Linked DNA regions of Homo sapiens: all the other regions are linked to region 2. Evidence: fine-mapped expression QTL. A gene starts in region 2. Each other region holds a variant in brackets. All regions are shown on one strand. Distances are between the middles of the regions. Region 1 has its middle 16 kb from the start of GLIPR1. Region 2 holds the start of CAPS2 (calcyphosine 2). Region 3 overlaps GLIPR1L2 (GLIPR1 like 2).

Region 1 (2,773 bases), 140 kb after region 2:
TTTGGTTGGTAGGCTATTAATTACTGCCTCAATTTGAGAACTTATTATTAGTCTATTCAGGGATTCGACTTCTTCCTGGTTTCGTCTTGGGAGGGTGTATGTGTCCAGGAATTTATCAGTTTCTTCTAGATTTTCTAGTTTATTTGTGTAGAGGTCTTTATAGTACACTCCAATGGTAGTTTGTATTTCTGTAGGATCAGTGGTGATATTCCCTTTGTCATTTTTTATTGTGTCTATTTGATTCTTCTCTCTTACCTTCATTAGTCTAGCTAGCAGTCTATCTATTTTGTTAATATTTGCATAAAAACAGCTCCTGGATTTACTGCTTTTTGATGGGTTTTCGTGTCTCTATCTCCTTCAGTTCTGCTCTGATCTTAGTTATTTCTTGTCTTCTGCTAGCTTTTGAATTTGTTTGCTCTTGCTTCTTTAGTTCTTTTGATTGTGATGTGAGGGTGTTGATTTCAGATCTTTTCAGCTTTCTGATGTGGACATTTAGTGCTATGAATTTCCCTCTTAACACTGCTTTAGCTGTGTCCCATAGATTCTGGTATGTTGTCTCTTTGTATTCATTGGTTTCAAATAACTTCATTATTTCTGCCTTAATTTCATTATTTACCAAGTTATCATTCAGGAGCAGGTTGTTCAATTTCCATGTAGTTGTGTAGTTTTTAGTGAGTTTATTAATTCTGAGTTCTAATTTGATTGCACTGTGGTCTGAGAGACTGTTATGATTTCCGTTCTTTTGTGTTTGCTGAGGGGTGTTTTACTTCCAGTTATGTGGTCAATTTCAGAGTAGGTGCCATGTGGCACTGAGAAGAATGTATATTCTGTTGTTTTGGGGTGGAGAGTCCTGCAGATATCTATCAGGTCCACTTGATCCAGAGCTGAGTTCACCTTCTGGGTATCTTTGTTAATTTTCTGTCTCGTTGATCTGTGTAATATTGACAGCGGGGTGTTAAAGTCTCCCACTATTATTTTGTGGGAGTCTATCTTTTTGTAGGTCTCTAAGAACTTGTTTTATGAATCTGGGTGCTCCTTGTTGGGTGCATATACATTTAGCATAGTTAGCTCTTCTTGTTGCATTGATCCCTTTTCCATTATGTAATCCCTTGTCTTTTTTTTATCTTTCTTGGTTTAAAGTCTGTATTAT[C/T]AGAGACTAGGATTGCAACCCTGCTTTGTTCTGTTTTCCATTTGCTTGGTAAATATTCCTCCATCCCTTTATTTTGGGCCTGTGTGTGTCTTTGCATGTGAGATGTGTCTCCTGAATACAGCACACTGATGGGTCTTGACTCGTTATCCAATTTCTCAGTCTTTGTCTTTTAGTTGAGGCATTTAGCCCATTTACATTTAAGGTTAATATTATGTGTGAATTTGATCCTGTCATTATGATGCTAGCTGATTATTTTGCTCATTAGTTGATGCAGTTTCTTCACAGTGTCATTGATCCTTTATATTTTGGTATGTTTTTGCAGTGGGTGGTACTGGTTTTTTCTTTCCATATTTAGTGCTTCCTTCAGGAGCTCTTGTATGGCAGGCCTGGTGGTGACAAAATCCCATAGCATTTGCCTGTCTGGAAAGGATTTTATTTCTCCTTCATTTATAAAGCTTAGTTTGGCTGGATATGAAATTCTGGGTTGAAAATTCTTTTCTTTAAGAATGTTGAATATTGGCCCCACTCTTTTCTGGCTTGTAGGGCTTCTGCAGAGAAATCCACTGTTAGTCTGATGGGCTTCCCTTTGTAGGTGACCTGACCTTTCTCTCTGGCTGCCCTTAACATTTTTCTCTTCATTTCAAACTTGGAGAATCTGATGATTATGTGTGTTGGGGTTGCTCTTCTCGAAGAGTATCTTAGTCGTGTGTTCTGTATTTCCTGAATTTGAGTGTTGGTCTGTCTTGCTAGGCTGGGGACGTTCTCCTGGATAATATCCTGAAGTGTGTTTTCCAACTTGCTTCCATGCTCCCCGTCACTTTCCAGTACACCAGTCAATTGTAGGTTTGGTCTTTTCACGTAGTCCCATATTTCTTGGCGGCTTTGTTCATTTCTTTTCATTCTTTTTTGTCTAATCTTGTCTTCATGCCTTATTTCAGTAAGGTGATCTTCAATCTCTAATAGCCTTTCTTCCGCTTGATCAATTCAACTATTGATACTTGTGTATGCTTCATGAAGTTCTCATGCTGTGTTTTTCAGCTCCATCAGGTCATTTATGTTCCTCTCTAAACTGGTTATTCTAGTTAGCAGTTCCTGTAACTTTTTATCAAGGTTCTTAGCTTCCTTGCATTGGGTTAGAACATGCTTCTTTAGCTCAGAGGAGTTTGTTATTACCCACCTTCTGAAGCCTACTTCTTTCAATTCATCAATCTCATTCTCCATCCAGTTTTGTGCCCTTGCTGGAGAGGAGTTGCGATCATTTGGATGAGAAGAGGCATTCTGATTTTTGGAATTTTCAGCATTTTTCACTGGTTTTTCCTCATCTTCGTGGATTTATCTACCTTTGATCTTTGAGGATGATGATCTTTGGTTGGGGTTTCTGTGTGGGGGTCTTTTTTATTGATATTGATGTTATTGCTTTCTGTTTGTTAGCTTTTCTTCTAACAGTCAGGCCCCTCTTCTTCATGTCTGCTGCACTTTGCTGGAGGTCCACTCCAGACCCTATCCGTGTGGGTATCACCAGTGGAGGCTGCAGAACAGCAAAGATTGCTGCCTGCTCTTTCACCTGGAAGCTTTGTCCCAGTGGGGTACCAGCCTGATGCCAGCCAGAGCTCTCCTGTATGA
Region 2 (2,773 bases):
ATAGCAAAATACATGTATACATTTTACACATATTCTTAGATTCCTTTCTCTGCATCTAACTGTAACATAATCACAATGCCAACATACAAATTCTGTCTTCAATTAGATAAGATGTTTAAAGCATTGCATTATAGCTATTAGTCTTTAATGCTAGACTGTAAGCCTCATATTTGCTCACCCTATGTCTCAGGATTTAGAAAGCCCACAATGTAGTAGGAACTTAACAAATGTTTGTTAAATAAGTGAAGTCAGTCAATTCGGAATGACAAAACACAAAAGTGGTTAACTTAGATATAGTAAGAGTATTCAAAGGGCAATGCCGTCATACATGGAACACTTTCGGATCTATGGAATTAGAGCAGTCAGGCAACTGACACCCTATGTAGATAATTTTAAGATTTTGACAGGGCTTCAAAGACAAAAACAGCTCAACCTTCTGATCTTCAAACCGAGCCAGCTGAGATCCAGAAAAGTGAACTGTACTTCGCTAAATGTTTGCCAGTTATTGCAGACCCGAATTCACACGTGGGTTTCAGATCTCTTTTCAGTACTACATCCTCACTGGTAAAGGTAATAGAAGAATTCGAGGGGAATGAGCTGTAGGGACTAAAAAATTAGAAACCTAAACTTGGTGGCACAAGAATCAGCAAACAACTGGCTGTGAGTGAATCTTTGAAACCTATGCCAAGGGTTGTCTTTGTCATTAAGCACTGAATATCCAGCTGGGCTATGTTGGAGATAGGGAGTAGCAAAAGGAAGGGAAAGCACTTCTAAATGGCTTCTGTCCCCACTTAAATGGCTGCATGTCATGAGATGATATTGCTAGCATATAATAAATACTGTTGGCTAATGTCTTTAGTGCTACCAAAAATAACTGAACACACTTCCCATTTCCCTCATTTTTTTTTAAGGATGACTATTTCCACTTCCAATTATTATCACTTCTCTCGGTAGTAATATTACTGGCTATTATGTTACTTATATCAAATCAGAAAAAAATGAAAAGCAAAAAATAAACTGATTTAATTCAGCCCATAAATAAGAAAAAAAGAAAGAGATGTAAATACAATTTAGTATTTAAGCTACATGAAGGTAGGGACCAAGTCTATGTTGATCCCAGACGACTACAGACCCAGATATCTGAATTGAAACTTAGGTCATTCCTAATTTCAAGCAAAACAGGGTAATATCTCCTTTCACCCCATCACTCCCCCTGCTCCCAAATTATATTATAATTCAGAGCACCTGCAGTGTAGCAGAAGGAATTCCCCATCCCCTACCTAACTGGGATTCCTGGACAGGACAGGCGAGGGGCACAAGAGACAGTCAGCCTGATTTCACCTAACAAGCTCGGTAAGAAGAGGTCCAGAGTTAGAAGAGTTGGAAAAGGTATAAACTAGCGCGATTCCTCCAAAAACCGCATTCAGAAAGCTTTAGACAGGACAGTCTAGACAGTCCAGGCCCGCGTCTGCAGGTTGCCCGGCAACAGGCGCCGCAGCGCAGGGCTTCTGATTACACTCTGACCTCCAGGGACGAAAAGGTCGTCGGCCCAAGTCCCTTGTTCGTTCTACGCCACCTCCCGCCCCCGCCAATCTGCCTCCTCAGTTCCGCTGCCTGGCTGACCGGAACTGAGCTTGTGGCCGGAGACCCCGCCACGCTCTCAGAAGTACTTGCTGGCTGGAAAACCCAAAGGGGTGAAACCTCAGCTACAGCCGCCGCAGCCTCCCAGGGAACCGGCTCCGCGGCGCCCCTAAACCCCGGCGAGGAGCCGGAGCGGACTCACTCACCCGCGCTTCTCCTGAGCAGGGAAAGGGCCAAAGCCCGGCCCGGATCCACGGCGGTTGTTGTGTAATTCTTTGTCTAATTGAATTCTGTTTAACATATTTCATAAGGCACCTGTCTGTGCACAGAGCCCAGAATGACGTTTTGAGGAGAAGAAATTTAAGCATATGCTACAATATCTGCTCTCAAGGAGCTTGCACTTATTTTTTTTAAAGACTGTAATATATTATATAGAGATACATAGATATTAGACATGGATATTACTTTAAATTTGTGTGACTATGTACATATAGATGATTACATGAATAATTGCATATATATGTATGTGTATTTGTGTGTGTATATATAATTAAAATTTAAAATGATGTGTGGAAAGGGCAAAGGCCTAGAAATCAAGAAACCTGCATTTTATTCTTTGCCTTTTTTTTTTTTTGAGACGGAGTTTCCTTCTTGTTGCCCAGGCTGGAGTGCAATGGCACAATCTCGACTCACTGCAACCTCTGCCTCCCAGGTTCAAGCGATTCTCCTGCCCCAGCCTCCCAAGTAGTTGGGATTACATGCGCCCACCACCACGCCCGGTTAATATTTTGTATCTTTATATAGAGGGGGTTTCACCATGTTGGGCAGGCTGGTCTCGAACTCCTGACCTCAGGTGATACCCTGCCTCAGACTCCCAGAGTGCTGTGATTTACAGGCATGAGCCACCATGCCCGGCCTAAATATTTTTATGTATGCTCTGTACACAATATCTTGGCATCAACTCCTCATCTATAAAGGGAAAAAGCTGGTTTGAGATAATTCCAAGGATCCACTCCACTCTAATATGCACTAACTTTCCTAAATTACACAGCCAAGAGTCAGATATTCAAATTAGAAGTAAGAGTTTATGAAAGTTAATCCAGTTCTTTCATAATCATGTTTTTCTAATCTGCAGTAACTTTTCAAAATTAGCTCCCCTCAGAATGTATGTATCAAAACGTGAATATTTCCA
Region 3 (2,773 bases), 87 kb after region 2:
AAATTCATCATATTCACTCTCCTGAGAATTATGCATGGCATGTACCTGAGGAGTGGAGGATCTTGTGATTCATCTTAGAATTCTGCCTACCATAGAATGGAAATGGTGAGGAAAGGTCAGTTTCTGGGTATATTATGAAGGTGGAGCTAATAATACAAGCCGATTGGCTTGAGTTTAGGGATAAATTGAATAAAATAATCAAGCAACACTATGCCTATGTGTTTAGTCTAAAAAACTGGGTGGATGGTGATTTCATTAACTTAGAGAAGATCAAAAGATATGTTTTCTATTTGGGTATATTAGATAGAAAAATAAATGTAGGAAATGTGAATGAATCATGAGAAGCAGATAGCCATATGAAAGTATGTGGTTGTTTTCTAAGTAGACGAAGCTTCTGGTATAAAGGCCCTGAAGTGGAAGTCACAGTGAATTAGATCAGCATGTGGGAGAGTGAATATGGAGACAATTTAAGAACTAAGTCCTGGGGCACTACGCTATTTTAAACTAAGGCAAAAGAGCTAGTAAAGGAGAATGAAGAGAGGTTAATGAGGTATGAGGGAAACCAAAAACCTGCTGGTAAGGTACTTGGAAGTCAAGTGAAGAACATGAGCTAAGAAGCCCAAACTGGTTAACTCTATGAGACGCTGCTGAGAGAATGAGAAATTGAGGAAGGAGAACTGACAGTTCCATTAGATGAGATGAAGGTATTTGGTGACCTTAATAAGAATAGTGAGTACAGGGGTCTCAGATGACTACAGTGATAAGATGAAGCTACCAGTTGTTGAAATTACCCTTTTTTTCTTGCTACTCTCTTATTGCACAAGCTTCTTTGTCTTGAAATTTGTTAACCATTTTTCCTTTGATACAAATATTGGCAAGTCTACCTTGAAGGATCTAGATTGGAACAGTTATCAGTCAACTCAGTCCAATTCTTATTTGATTATGTACCTAAAATAGGCAATCACATTATCTCTCTTAAGGATAGTTGGTAGAAAAATCAATCCATTACAATATTATAAAATACTGGGTAGAAATGAATGTAAAATAACAAAATTGAAAATTAAAAGGTATAGTGGGATGAATGGTGCCCCCCCTACCAACGTTATGTTTAGGTCCTAATTTCCAGAACCTGTCAATATTACTTAAATGGCAAAAGTGTGAATATTACCTAATATGGCAAAGATGTGGTTAATATAAGGATCTTGAGAGGAGCTTATTCTAGATTATTTGGGTGAGGGCTAAATGCAATCACATGTATACTTGTAAGAGATGGAGAGG[A/G]GGATTCAGCATAAGACACACAGAAGAGGAGGCAGTGTGACCACAGCAGAAGCAGCTACAGTGATGCATCCACAAGCCAAGGAGCTAAGGCCACCAGAAGCTGGAAAAATCAAGGAACAGATTCTTAAGAGCCTTTGAAGGGAACACAGCCCTGCCAACACCTTGATTTTGGACTTTGGGCCTCCAGAACAGTGAGAGAATAAATTAATGTTGTTTTAGCCACCGAATTTGTGGTAATTTGTTAATATAGTTACAGAAAATTAATGCAGAATGGAAGAATAAAACAGACTTGGCCATGCATACTGAAAATAACAAGTCAAAGCAACCTTGAAAATTTTTCTCAGAAACACAAAGGTGAAGAATAGAGGTCAAAATATATATGAAAAAATAAAGGAAATATGTATGGCATATAAATCTACAAATTGGTGTTTCTAAAGAATAGAGAAGAGCCAAGGAAAGAGAAATAATAAAGAAAAGAAAATGTTCCTAATCTACAAAGATATCTGTATAAAGATTAGAATACTTTATAATGTATCAGAAAAAAACTGAAACTATATTACATATAATTATTTACTAGTCCTTATTTTTCATTTTCAAAGATAAAAACTCACACATTTTAAGTACAATTTTAAAAAGTAAAATAAAACAATATTAATTCGATTACTCTAAAACTTAAATATTAGAAAGGACACAAGGATGACCATAAGAATTTATGCTTCATTGATAGGTAATGTTATTAACTGACCTAGGAAAATATATAGAGTGGAGGGAAAATAACTTTTATTTTTAGGCATGTTGGATCTGCAGTTGACTACAAGACCTTTCATTTAGTTAAATATAATTTTGTTGTAAGTGTGCCAAAGACATTGCACATTACATTTTATGTAATGTAATTTATAAATATTTCCGCTTATTGTGTTATATAGATGAGGGTCAATAAGTAGATCCAAATCCATATGTAATGATTGTGATAAAGTTGGCGTTTAAAATCACTGGTTAAAGTATTTAAGTAATGGAATTAGGAGAGCCTACTGGCTGGATAAAAGTAAAACTGAGTTTTTCACTCATCTTAGAGGATTAAATTTCTAATACATAAAAGACTTAAACATTAAAAAGTGAAGTCATGAAAGCTATATTAGTGAATTTACTTACAATTTGGAAGGTATAAGGACTTACCTATCAGAACATTAAAGTCCAGAAACTATAAAGGAACACATGTATGAATCTGAGTATAGAAAAAATTATTTATTAAATAGAGAATCCTTTCCCCATTGCTTGTTTATGTCAGGTTTTTCAAATATCAGATGGTTGTAGATATGTGGCGTTATTCCTGAGGCCTCTGTTCTGTCCCATTGTAGTAATAGTTTGAAGTCGGGTAACGTGATGCCTCCAGCTTTGTTCTTTTTGCTTAGGATTGTCTTGGCTATTCGGGCTCTTTTTAGTTCCATATGAAATTTAAAGTAGTTTTTTCCAGTTCTGTGAAGAAAGTCAGTAG

The links. PIP is the estimated chance that this variant, and not a neighbour inherited with it, causes the effect.
Region 1: its variant is the best candidate, but not a certain one, in a credible set for the expression of CAPS2 in ileum (GTEx, PIP 0.79).
Region 3: its variant is the best candidate, but not a certain one, in a credible set for the expression of CAPS2 in whole blood (INTERVAL, PIP 0.74).

What each region holds. Positions count from the first base shown.
Region 1 is chr12:75,463,765-75,466,537 of GRCh38, forward strand. No RefSeq gene overlaps it. Among named protein-coding and RNA genes, the nearest start is that of GLIPR1, 16 kb to the right of the region's middle. The variant C/T (reference allele first, on the strand shown) is at 1,151.
Region 2 is chr12:75,328,587-75,331,359 of GRCh38, forward strand. It overlaps CAPS2 (calcyphosine 2), which reads right to left and starts at 1,738. Exons shown (of 17, transcript NM_001355024.4): 1 at 1,281-1,738. RefSeq lists an enhancer at 1,645-1,694.
Region 3 is chr12:75,415,953-75,418,725 of GRCh38, forward strand. The region is part of intron 3 of GLIPR1L2 (GLIPR1 like 2); the gene reads left to right. Among named protein-coding and RNA genes, the nearest start is that of GLIPR1L2, 26 kb to the left of the region's middle. The variant A/G (reference allele first, on the strand shown) is at 1,279.